Linked DNA regions of Homo sapiens. The protein of the gene in region 1 interacts with the protein of each later gene in a biochemical or structural test. Each region holds a gene or a part of one and is shown on either strand. Other genes may lie near its edges.

The links.
Region 2: the proteins of HOXD9 (region 1) and PBX1 form a complex in vitro, tested with the Homo sapiens proteins (one study listed by BioGRID).
Region 3: the proteins of HOXD9 (region 1) and MEIS1 form a complex in vitro, tested with the Homo sapiens proteins (one study listed by BioGRID).

What each region holds. Positions count from the first base shown.
Region 1 is NC_000002.12:176,121,219-176,124,968, reverse strand, and holds HOXD9 (homeobox protein Hox-D9), read right to left. Parts: upstream 2,251-3,750; 5' UTR 2,201-2,250; coding exon 1,384-2,200; intron 1,036-1,383; coding exon 794-1,035; 3' UTR 32-793; downstream 1-31. UniProt on the Homo sapiens protein: Sequence-specific transcription factor which is part of a developmental regulatory system that provides cells with specific positional identities on the anterior-posterior axis.
Region 2 is NC_000001.11:164,810,675-164,814,324, forward strand, and holds part of PBX1 (pre-B-cell leukemia transcription factor 1), read left to right. Parts: intron 1-1,315; coding exon 1,316-1,475; intron 1,476-3,650. UniProt on the Homo sapiens protein: Transcription factor which binds the DNA sequence 5'-TGATTGAT-3' as part of a heterodimer with HOX proteins such as HOXA1, HOXA5, HOXB7 and HOXB8. Binds to the DNA sequence 5'-TGATTGAC-3' in complex with a nuclear factor which is not a class I HOX protein.
Region 3 is NC_000002.12:66,508,014-66,511,663, reverse strand, and holds part of MEIS1 (homeobox protein Meis1), read right to left. Parts: intron 1-3,650. UniProt on the Homo sapiens protein: Acts as a transcriptional regulator of PAX6. Acts as a transcriptional activator of PF4 in complex with PBX1 or PBX2. Required for hematopoiesis, megakaryocyte lineage development and vascular patterning.

The DNA.
Region 1 (3,750 bases):
GCAGAGAGGCAGAGAAAGCAGGCACACAATGTTTAGGGCCAGCGTCTGGGCTCCATTTGATCAGGTCAGCATTTATTAGTAGGAAGCAGTAACATTTACAACTGGTCCTCGGGCAGGAACCGGGAGGGCCACCACCCGCGGCCGCCCACGCGAGCCCAGCCTTCAGGGGAGAGAGCAGCGCGTCCAATGCACTGAGGACAAACCCCAACCCGCCCGAGGCCCTGGGCTCCTCTAAGCCTCACTGGAGATCTCCACCGAGGTCCCGCGTGCTCCCTGAGGAAAGGGGGCTTTCGCAACTGGTGGGCAACCCCGCCGGGCTTCACCGTGGGCTAGCAGCCGGGGTGTCCGCACTGTTGTCGCTCTGCCTTCATTCTTGGAATTGGGGCGCACTTGGCCCCTGTTTGGGCAGTGCTGGGGGTGAGGGGACTAAACTACAGCACTTTTCAGAAACATGGGGGACATTTACACAAGAGAGGGCTCCCCAAGCCAGCTTGCACTCACAAAATATAGCATTTCTTAAGGAACCAATGGAGCAGGAAAGAGAGGGAGTGGGATAGGGCGAAACCCCAAAGCCACTTGGTTTTTCCAACACGTAAACGAGCAAATACAGAGTCCCCCAAATACCTCAGAGACCAACCACACAGTCACTTCTATCTAAAAAGAAAAAAAAAAAGAAGAAGAAGTCCAAGTCGCTGGAGAGTTTCTGGAAATCAAGCACCAAACACCCACAAAGGAAAACAGCAACAACAACAAATCCGCTGCCCTTGAGCGCTCCCGCCAGCACCGCGCCGGGTCAGTCTCCTTTGGGGCATTTCTCCTTGCTCATCTTTTTCATTTTCATCCTACGGTTCTGAAACCAGATTTTGACCTGTCTCTCTGTTAGGTTGAGAATCCTGGCCACCTCGTAGCGCCGGTCCCGGGTGAGGTACATGTTGAAGAGGAATTCTTTCTCCAGCTCAAGCGTCTGGTATTTGGTGTAGGGACAGCGCTTTTTCCGGGTGGAGCGAGCGTGGATCCAGTTCGCGGCGGGGTTGTCTACAAAGAGGGAGGTTTGGAGACGGGGAGAGAGGAGAGGAGGGGAGGCAGGGAGAGACCACAGGGTGGGGAAGAGAGGTCGTTAAATTAATTTCACCAAGGATGGTCGCTTTTCACAACTTGTGGGGAATTATCATAAAAAGCCTTAATGCTCGCGCTCTGTTTACCGTACTAACTGAGCGCCCAGGGTAGGTGGTTATGGGAAGCTCTTTTTATGGATGCATGTTGTTCGCCTAGGCTTGGGTAGGCGTCTAGACGTTTTTATAGGTTAGTAAAACTATCAGTTTTGCACATTCGAGCCTTACAGGTTTCAGCAATAAATCAGGGGGCAATTTCTTTTGCACTTACTTGGGTCAAGTTGCTGCTGCTGCGGCTGCGAATGCTGCTTCTCCTCCTCCTTCAGCGAACAGCCTGGGATCGGGTGGTCGCTGCAAGCTGAGGGCTCCGACGAGCCGCCCGTCCCAGTCGCGGCCCCGATCCCTGCCCCAGGCCCGGTTCCCCCCGTCGCCGCTGCCGCCTTCTCCTGCAGGAACGAGTTGCACGAGAACTCGGGGCCGCTGCTCCCCTGGGACTCCCGGGCCACGGAGCACTCAGTCCGTTTGGAGGAGGAGGATAAGGAAGTGGAGGAGGAGGAGGTGGTGGAGGCGGCCGTGGCGGGGGCCGGGGCCGCTCGGGTTTCAGGCTTAATCCCGTAGTGGCGCCCGTTGGCTGGGCCGCTGGGGCCAGGGCTGGGACCGCGGCCCGGACCGCCGCCTCCACCACCACCGCCACCGCCCGCACCGCCCGGGAAGCCGGGCAGCGGCTCCATCCAGGAGCGCACGTAGCGGCCGGGCTCGGAGGCAGAGGCGGCCAGGGGCGGCGGGGGAACGTACGGGTGGTAGAGGCCGCTCATCGCCGCCGCTGCCGGGGGCTGGGAGGGCACCGCGGACCACGAGGCAGAGAACACGGCCGATCTGGGGGCAAAACTACACGAGGCGAACTCGGCGGCGGTGGCGGCCGGGCCATCAGCCACACCTGCAGGCCGGCCCTGCGCGCCTGGCCCCGGCGGCCCGAAGCGCGCCGCGAACACCTCGTCGCCCTCATGGCCTATAAGCGAGTCCACGTAGTAGTTGCTGAGGGTGCCACTGGAAGACATTTTGAGGCGTCCCGCACTCCCACCCAACATTACACTGTCCGCCGCCGAGCAGCTCCCCGCCGGCGCCCGAGCCACCGACTAGTTCGCAGGCTGCAGCCTCCACCATTGGTCGCGCGGCCCACGTGATCATATTTACCAATACCGGGAGTAAATCAGTCCGCTAAACTGGGGGCTGCTGTGATTAAAAAAAAAATCATCAACATAAGCGCCGCAATTAGAGCCCGCAGGCCCAGGTCCATGTGCCCGGCTCGGCCCGGCCCGACCTGGCCTGGCCCGCCCAGCGGCTGCCAGGACCACAGACGCGACCGCATCCAGAGGAGGCGCTGGGGACTATTTGTTCGCTTCTTCTTGCAGCCCTCGGTCCCGCAGTCGGGCCCCGTCGCTGACTCTCCAGCTTCCGAGCCGCGGGCGGCGAGTCCAGGGCACACGGAGCGGCCGCGGGGGCGCCAGGCCGGTGTCGCCCGAGGCAGGCGGGCCCTCGGGGCGGCCCCTAGCGCCCGAGGGGAGCTGTTCTCCCCTCGCCTCTCTCCCTACTCACACCCACCCCTCCCCACACATCCCCACACACACGCTTGCTCACAGCTTGTCGTGTTGTTTAAAACAGGTGGAAGACCTCTGTAATGATATTATGCCTTTCAATAAAAATTTTATGAGGTGTATTTGATTATAGATTAATGTGTCCCTAATAAAACGGACGGATGGAGCAGATCGGAGGGCCCCCTCCCCCTGCCACACTCACACACGCCCGCGCGGCCACACACACCCCGACGTGAGGCTGGGCACACGCCGCGGCCCGAGGGGCGAGCCGGGGCGCGGCGGTGGAGGACACAGAGGGGCTTCTGCCTGCCCTCGGAAGGGCGGGCGGCCGGGCGAGTTGGCGCAGCACGGACAGTGGCGGCCAGGGTGCTTCGTCTTCTCCGATGATGCTGGAAAGGCCCTGGAAGAGAACACGCCACAGGGCAGAACCCAAATGCTAGAGCAGCTTGCTCCCGCCCGCCGCCTCAGCCCTGCCTCAGCGAGTCTCCCCGGGCAGGGCCGCTTCGCGCGGTTCGCACTTAAAGGCCTCGGAGGAGACTCCCAAAATGTCTAAAAAATTCGGCCGAATGGCTAGGTCCTTGGGACACTCCCTTCTGATTTTTTTCCCCCTACAGAGGTGAGGTTGAGCAGCCTTGAATCTGAGGGAAATGCCCATTGTCACTCCCAAATCCATGGTACAAAGCCTCGGAAGCCCGGCTGGGAGCCCAGACAAAAGCGGCCGGGGCGCCGGCAGCGGAGGGCATATTCCTTGCTCTACAAGTTGCCCAGCTCACCCTTGGAGGGCTCCCGGCCCACCTCCAGCCCCGAAAAGGAAGCGGGTAAATGGCTATTTATGGCCTGATTGATTACCTTTGCCAATAGCTTTCTGATTTTGTTCCAGATGGGATGCCTTTGCCTTGTAGCTCAGGCTTTCCTCGGATACATGGCCCGCTATCAACAGCTAATGGTATTCCCCACATGATCGGAGAAACGGCTAAATAAAAATTACCCTCCTCCTGCCCAACCGGTGTTAAGTCTGGGGCAAAGCTATTACAACGTTTTCA
Region 2 (3,650 bases), on another chromosome or scaffold:
ATGTCAAGAAAAACATAAATTTCAAAGTGAAACTAGATATGCAGTGATCCTGAAATACACCCAAAAGTGTCCTTCCTCCTCCAGTTTACCTCTTTTTCTGTAGACATCAGTGTTTACAATAAATAAAGCATTTTCTTATTGAATTTTTTTCTTTTTTGTTTAATATTGTGGTGGTACAGACTGATTTTTTTTTAAAAAAGAAAGGCTTGGCATTTCTGCTGTAGTATAAACTGTATAAGCCTTTCAGTGCTATCCTTATAAGATGTTTTAAGTTTGTTAATGCGTTTAAAAAATTAAGTATAGTTTTGCAACAGTTTTCTTTATCTGCCGTCGTTGGGAGTTAAATATCAATGATATGTAAGCTGTGGTACATGTGGGATCAACTCCCCCTTCCCTCACCAGATTCATAGTTTGTTTTGTAATTATATAAAAACATCGACATTTTAGTTCAAAATCATATCTGGAATGTGGGATATAAAACTTTCCTTCCCCGGGCAGGAATTATGGGGGTAAAACTTGAATTTAACTGTGTCTCCACTTGTGTCTGGCAGAGGTCTTGGTATGAAGGGAGCAGAGGTACCAGATCAAGCCAAGACACCTGCTGCGAACCACATGAAGGAAATAAATTAACAAATGAAAGTAAATTAGGTTTATTGTGTCTGCTGGCTTTAACATTTAAACCCTAGAATTCAAGGGGATAATCATTTGTATGCTACAGTTTTTCCTTATGTAGATAACACTAAGCTTTACACAAAATAGTCAGTGAAATCTGGTAGATTGAATTATATTGATCCTAAGGTCTATAGTGAAATACAGCTAAGAATCTCAGTCCACATTAAAGTTATGTAACTTCTAAAAATTTGCAATTAATCTATCACACGAAAGCACCTATATGGACATTTAAAGATCTGTGTATCTTGATGGCATCAAGCCAGCTTTCACATTGATAAACGCTAGGGGCATTTCTCCTGAAATGTTAGGTATATTTTAGTGTCATAACTGAAGATGTAAGCAAATTTAAAATGCTTGCTCTAAATTAAAAGGGTTCTAGCTTAAATGAGCAGCTCCTTTATAGGAAGATTTTTGTCACAGTGGTTTCGCTAAATTTCAGTTATATTAAACAAGAGAATCGCATTTTATGTAGTTGTCCTTTTGAAGCTCTTACTTCAGATCTTTTTACTGATGTTGCCAAATTATTATAGGATAAGACCAATTAGCTTACCTCTTCACCTCTCCCATAAAGCCTTTTTTTTCTTCTGCAATGTTTCTGAAGGATGAAATGTGAACTTTCTCATCTTCTCTTAAACTACTCTAGGTATCAAACTGGTTTGGAAATAAGCGAATCCGGTACAAGAAGAACATAGGTAAATTTCAAGAGGAAGCCAATATTTATGCTGCCAAAACAGCTGTCACTGCTACCAATGTGTCAGCCCATGGAAGCCAAGCTAACTCGCCCTCAACTCCCAACTCGGCTGGTTAGTTTTTTCTTTGATTGGGGGTGGGGGAAGGAATTGTTCTCCATTTTTATACTGGCTGTTCCTACATTGGGATTTTCTTTTAATTTGTTAGGCTTTTGATTGGTTAATTTCTGTATTTGATTGTATTTTTGGATGTTAATGTCACTTTGGGCTCTTTCTTTCATTTCCAAAGAGCAATCTGTTAGACTTTTTACAACGTGGGTTGTCTGGAGGTTTGCATTAATTTGTCTATTAAGTTAAGACCAAAGTAAATTGGTTAGCTTGAAGAGACCTCTAAATTCTCCTCTCAGGGATATCAATAAGTAAGTTAGACATAGTGCTTAGAGATAGTCTATTGGGATTCTGTCATTTGGCCTGTTTTATATAAAGCTTTTATCCTTGTCAGTTTTGCTGTTCCAACAACATAATGTCTGGGTCACTTATTAGCATGCATTCTATGCAGAAATATTTACTCTTCTAGCAAATATCTTATTAGAATGCTTTGGTATGCAAAGCCAGGCTATGAATATTTCTATATATTGTTTATAGTTGTTGTTCTTTATTGTTTTTTGTTGGTCTTCTTTATGATTATCGGTCATGAGCTATGTAATAGGCTTTGTTTCAGGAAATATGCATTATATCACTAATTTAAGAGTTTAGGTCAAAATACTATATTTTGGGGTGTGCCTTGTGTCATCAGTTCAGAATTTCTACATGTGAAAAAATGTAGTTAATAATGCAAAAAATATAACCTTTGTGTTTGTATGCTATGGAAGGCATGTGGTAATTTTTTTTTCCCTTTGGTAAAGGAAAGACAAGTATTTTCTCATTAAATAAGTTTGGTTTGACTTTGATTAGGGTGCACAGCTAAGAAAACTGATGATTCTAACTTAAAAGGTTACCAATTTAAATATGTTTGATCGTAATATGATTACAAACCTAATGTCTAACATTTTTTAGAGTATGTGGTATCTTTGACCACAAAGCTTGTTTGTCCACTAAAATAAGTTTTCTTACAGCGACTCGTTACTGGAGAAATGTAGGGTTCCACAGACTGATGTCTTCTGTGAGCTTCCAGATGCATAAATTTGTTATGATAAGGTCCTCCAAGTCACTGGGCTATACCCAGCACTTCTTTTGTGGCCTTCTTTTATCTAAATGGAATCATGCATGAAGAGTAGCCTGGGCTTTTTCAACATGGATATAATAAAACAATGTAGAATTCAATCCAGTTTTAATTTTCCCAGCACTGCAGGTTAGATTCCTATGAGGAGCATATTTACTTTTTTAGAAATATTTTGTTTTTTTCTTCCTCCATCATGGTGTGATTGACAAGGGATCAAAGCTAACAGGTTCAATAACCAGAGAGAGTTCCATCTTCTCCATCTGGTCAATTATTAAGAATTTCAGACCCAACAACACCAGTTGAACTGTGCTGCTAGGCAGACATTTTCACTTGTCTCTTTGGAAGAAGTACAATTCTGTCAACATTAGCAAAAATGCACTCAACACTCCTGCAAAGGTTATCATAATGCAAAACGATATCAAAATGACTTTTTCCTGTCCCTGGTATATCTGCATCGCAGATGGCTTAGCATGATTTATGACTAGTCCTTAGAAAAGCCCTGTGGACTTTCTTCATTACTAAATTTGTAACTATTTATTCTTTCCTAAAGCCCTTAAAAGAGAAAAATAAGCATTTTAACCCTCTATTCTGTGTTTAAGAAATATGGTTGCCTCTTATGGAATGTCAGACTATGATTACAGTTTTCTAAGGAATTTTTTTCTGGTGGCTTAAACATCATGTGACTATTCTGAGCACAAAGTAAATTATTATGGAAAATTTGAGCTAAGCCTTCCAATTGTGCGTAAGTTGTTGGAAATAATCTGCACAGGAACCCCTTTGTAGTGCTTTTTCTAAAGTAGAGGCAAAAGAAAATACTATTGTATGTGTGCAATAGCATGGAATTTTAAAAGATAAACATTTTAACAGGAAAAGTTATAAATGGGCTTTTCTGTATTTTCTTTTGCTCTTAACCAACCTAAATCATCCACACAGGTAAAGTAGAACTTTAAAATGTTCAAACTTTTCACATAAGGTGTTTATTATGTTATGTACTTGCTCTTCAATAATTTGGAAAGATAAATGATAATTGAAATAAATTTTAAATAAGAGGTTAATATGTGAAAATA
Region 3 (3,650 bases), about 110 Mb from region 1:
GAAATGTAGGTAATCCATCATATAAGCAGTTTGACATAGGAATGCTTCAAATAAAATATAATTTTTCTTGTAATAGAGAGAAAGCATCAAGTTTAGTAAAGGAAAAACCCCTGACATAGTTTCTTAATTAAAAAACAATTACTGTGTAAATCAAATAAGGTAATGCTAAATTAATAGTAAATTAGAATTGTATTACACTAATAATTCAGGCAGTTTCTAAAATTCATGCTAGGTAAACCTAGCATTTTTCACACTGAAAAATCACCTGCTAACATATTCCTCTATATTGGATCCTATTTTTCTATTGATTTTTATTATAACATTTACACTCTTTATTCTAGAAAATATTTTGGCTCTGTGACATAATGAAATTTAAAAAGTTAGTATTTCTTTTTTAAAATGCCATGTTTAATAAGAAAAAATAAAAATTTAACCCATATAACTGTTCAAAATAAGTTACAAGGTACAAATGGAAAGTAGGTATTTTTTGCCTTGGCATCAAAGTCAAAAAGGAAAACAACAAAGGACAAGACCCATTACACTAAAAAGTAGCTTAGCTCGGTCAACCGTTCTCTTAGAAACCGACAGGTTGATCTGGGCCCAAACGGAAGAGCTATAGCAGCCAGGCTTAGAAATGAGGTAAAAAAAAAATACACCCAAGAGCACATTCACTGGGTTAAATAAGCCACTGGAGAGCCAACTACACGACCCAAAGAACCTGAAACTTTGGTAAGACAAGTTTCCTGCACATAGCCTCAGGTTCATTTCCATGGCTTCATGAATTTCTGTATTTCTCATTTCTGTTATTAGGTCCTACATAAAAAAATAATTCTCTAGTTCAATTTCAGTTATTTCTGTCTAATCTATAGTAGGTATGTTGCAACTAATCAACTGTTTTTAACAGCTCCCTCAGCAGACCCATCTCTCTCCTGTGAAAAAAAGAAAAGAAAAGCATTCCTCAATTTTTTTTTTTCAATTGCCTTAACTTGTACTGAGATGAAGTTTAGAAAGTTTGTTGGGTGAGGAACAAACTAATTCCAACATTTCTACTATTATTACAGAATATGCTATAAATGCAAAACTTTTGCAAAACTTTTCTGATTCTAAACTTTTATTCATTAAAAATCTGTAATTTTATTATATTTAAAATCTATCTGTTTCATTAAAAGTTTAACAGAAACATATCTTGTGTTCACTTGGAAAAGATCATGAAAACCCACCACTCCAAAGCCATTGTTGTATCAGTGAAGAAAATGCTATGTTCTCTGACTGGGCCAAGGTCATGTACCCTGGCATGGAACTACTGGGGTCTGTGCTGTTCCAGACCCCTACATCTGTAAATCAGCACTCCTTCCACCCAACCAAACTCTTTATTTGCATAACCAAGTATTTTATGAGAAGTCCCCTTGGATTTGCCTAATAAATTCTTTGAAAGTCCAGTATTTAAACAGCCTTTTTATTCAGAGAAGCAGTTTACCATATAAAATAACAATTCATTAAAGAAACATGAGAAAAGAAAACAACTCAACAGCATTTAAATTTTCAATGGGCTAATCCACTTTCAATATGCAAAAGGTAACCAAGGAAAAGACACATACGACCTGATCATTGATTAAAAATGAAAAGCTTATAACCTTACAATACTGTTTTCACCACCTCCCCATGATTATTTTCCACCTTTAAAAAAAATAGCCTTTTTATCCACCTCAAACCCCTTCAGATTAATTTAGCAAGCAATGCATAGTGCCTGCCTAGAAGAGAATTCATTGATAATTTATGGAAATATCTACTATAATCCAGCAGAGATGACTTTTTTCCAGCTTTGTGCATCAATAGATAATCAAGGCCTTAAAGCAACCTTAGCTTCCCATTACCTCAGGCAAAAGAATTCCTGAAAGCGTGCCTTGAGGGCACCTGAATTATATACTCCATTAGGAGAGGAAGGCTTTCTGCATTCCATGTGTAACACTCACCAGAACCTTTCCTGTTTATTTCTGCTGTATGAAAGCAGAAGCATTAGGAACAGAATTTTTTAAGTGAAGACTTATGTAGATACAATGGAGAAACCTTTCAAGCAGGAGCCAGATCACCCCCTTCAGTCCCTGGCAGTGACCTCTCCTGAATAAAAGGTTTCTATTACATCATTAGCTCAAGCCAAAAACAGCCTTGGCTTAATGCACAGTTTGTTCTTCCTACTGTTTTTAGGCAAATACAGCTACTTTACTCCCATCTGGGAGGGAAATTACACTGCTGGGTTGTAATCTAAGACAAGATTTTCATTGGAAGCAAATGCTTTCAATCCAGTGTAAATACTGGTGCATGTTCAGAAAAGCCTAAAACAATAAACCCTGCTCCTTTCCGACACAAGTTAGGGAAATGGAGAAGATGGGGAAGGAGAAGAGCATAATAAAACAGACTATTCTAAAAGCAAACACTTTCATAGATTTTAATAAATTGTTTAACCTCTTCCACTTTCTAAAATTGAAAATTGATCTGGAAATGTCTCAACCTCAGAGGAAAGTCTAAATGGTCAATTGTACCTTTAGCATTTCCATTCACTCCGCAATTTGATATAGTCACCTCAATGTGGTCTCTCGAGAATTTCTTTCCTTTTTTACTTTTGAGATCACTAAACAAACTTGGAGAACCGCCGGCCGACCACACGGCAGCAGGCAGCAGCTCTGAACCACATTTGTAAAATGTCAGCAGTGACTTCATTCCTGGAGCTGACTTCTCCTGCCGCCAAATGAAGGCAAACTGAAAAGGTGGAAATAATCATAAAAATGATGCTAGTCCATAAACAAGCTTACAGCCTCATTAGGATAGCAGTAGGCTCCAGTGGGTGATTTATGCTCGTTTTGCTGATGCTATGAGGAAATGCCATAGGGCGACTTTAGCCAACCGCTAATGGTTTCTGACAGCTTCTTAGCAACTAGTGCAAGCAACGTTGTGGCGTTTGCTAGTGACAGAAACTGAAAATGTCATATTATCTGCCCATGTGTCATGAAGTCCGTGTGGCAATTAACTAGCAGGCCAGTGACTGAGGGGCCAGAGGCTCCTGAAAATGGCCTTTGGCTATGCAGAGGCAGCGGCCGGGGCTGCGCACACACAGGCCGCACATATGCAACATTCTAATGCAGAAATCCTCTCCCTGCAACTTCCTGGGCTCTGATGAGACCGGGCCACTCCAGTCTCTTTTTTCCCCCTCATTGAAGTGAAACTCTGGGTTCCTCTCTCTCTAGGCACAGGCTCGGGCATTATAAGACTCTAAAGCAATCTGCTTTGATACGATTATCGGAATGGCTCCTTAATTGGCAATACCTGGTTCTGTGCCTCTTGGATGCTGGACTCAAAGGTGCTAGCTACAGTACTTTGCTACTCTCTCACAAATTAGTCTAAAAGGATTTAAGATCACTGGAGCAGACTCATTGCCTGTCAGATTTCAAGGAGCAGAGGAACTCTGCACAGCAACAAGACACTATTTAAAAAAACACCAGGTTTCTAACGAGCAGGGGGAGAATCTTGGCCACACTTTTCAGTTTCCGAGCTATCAAAACCATGCACTATATGTCAAACTGTCAAACCTTTCAGCGTGGGCCATTTGCCCTTTCAAATAATATTTAAGAATTGTTTTTACAAAATTTTATAGG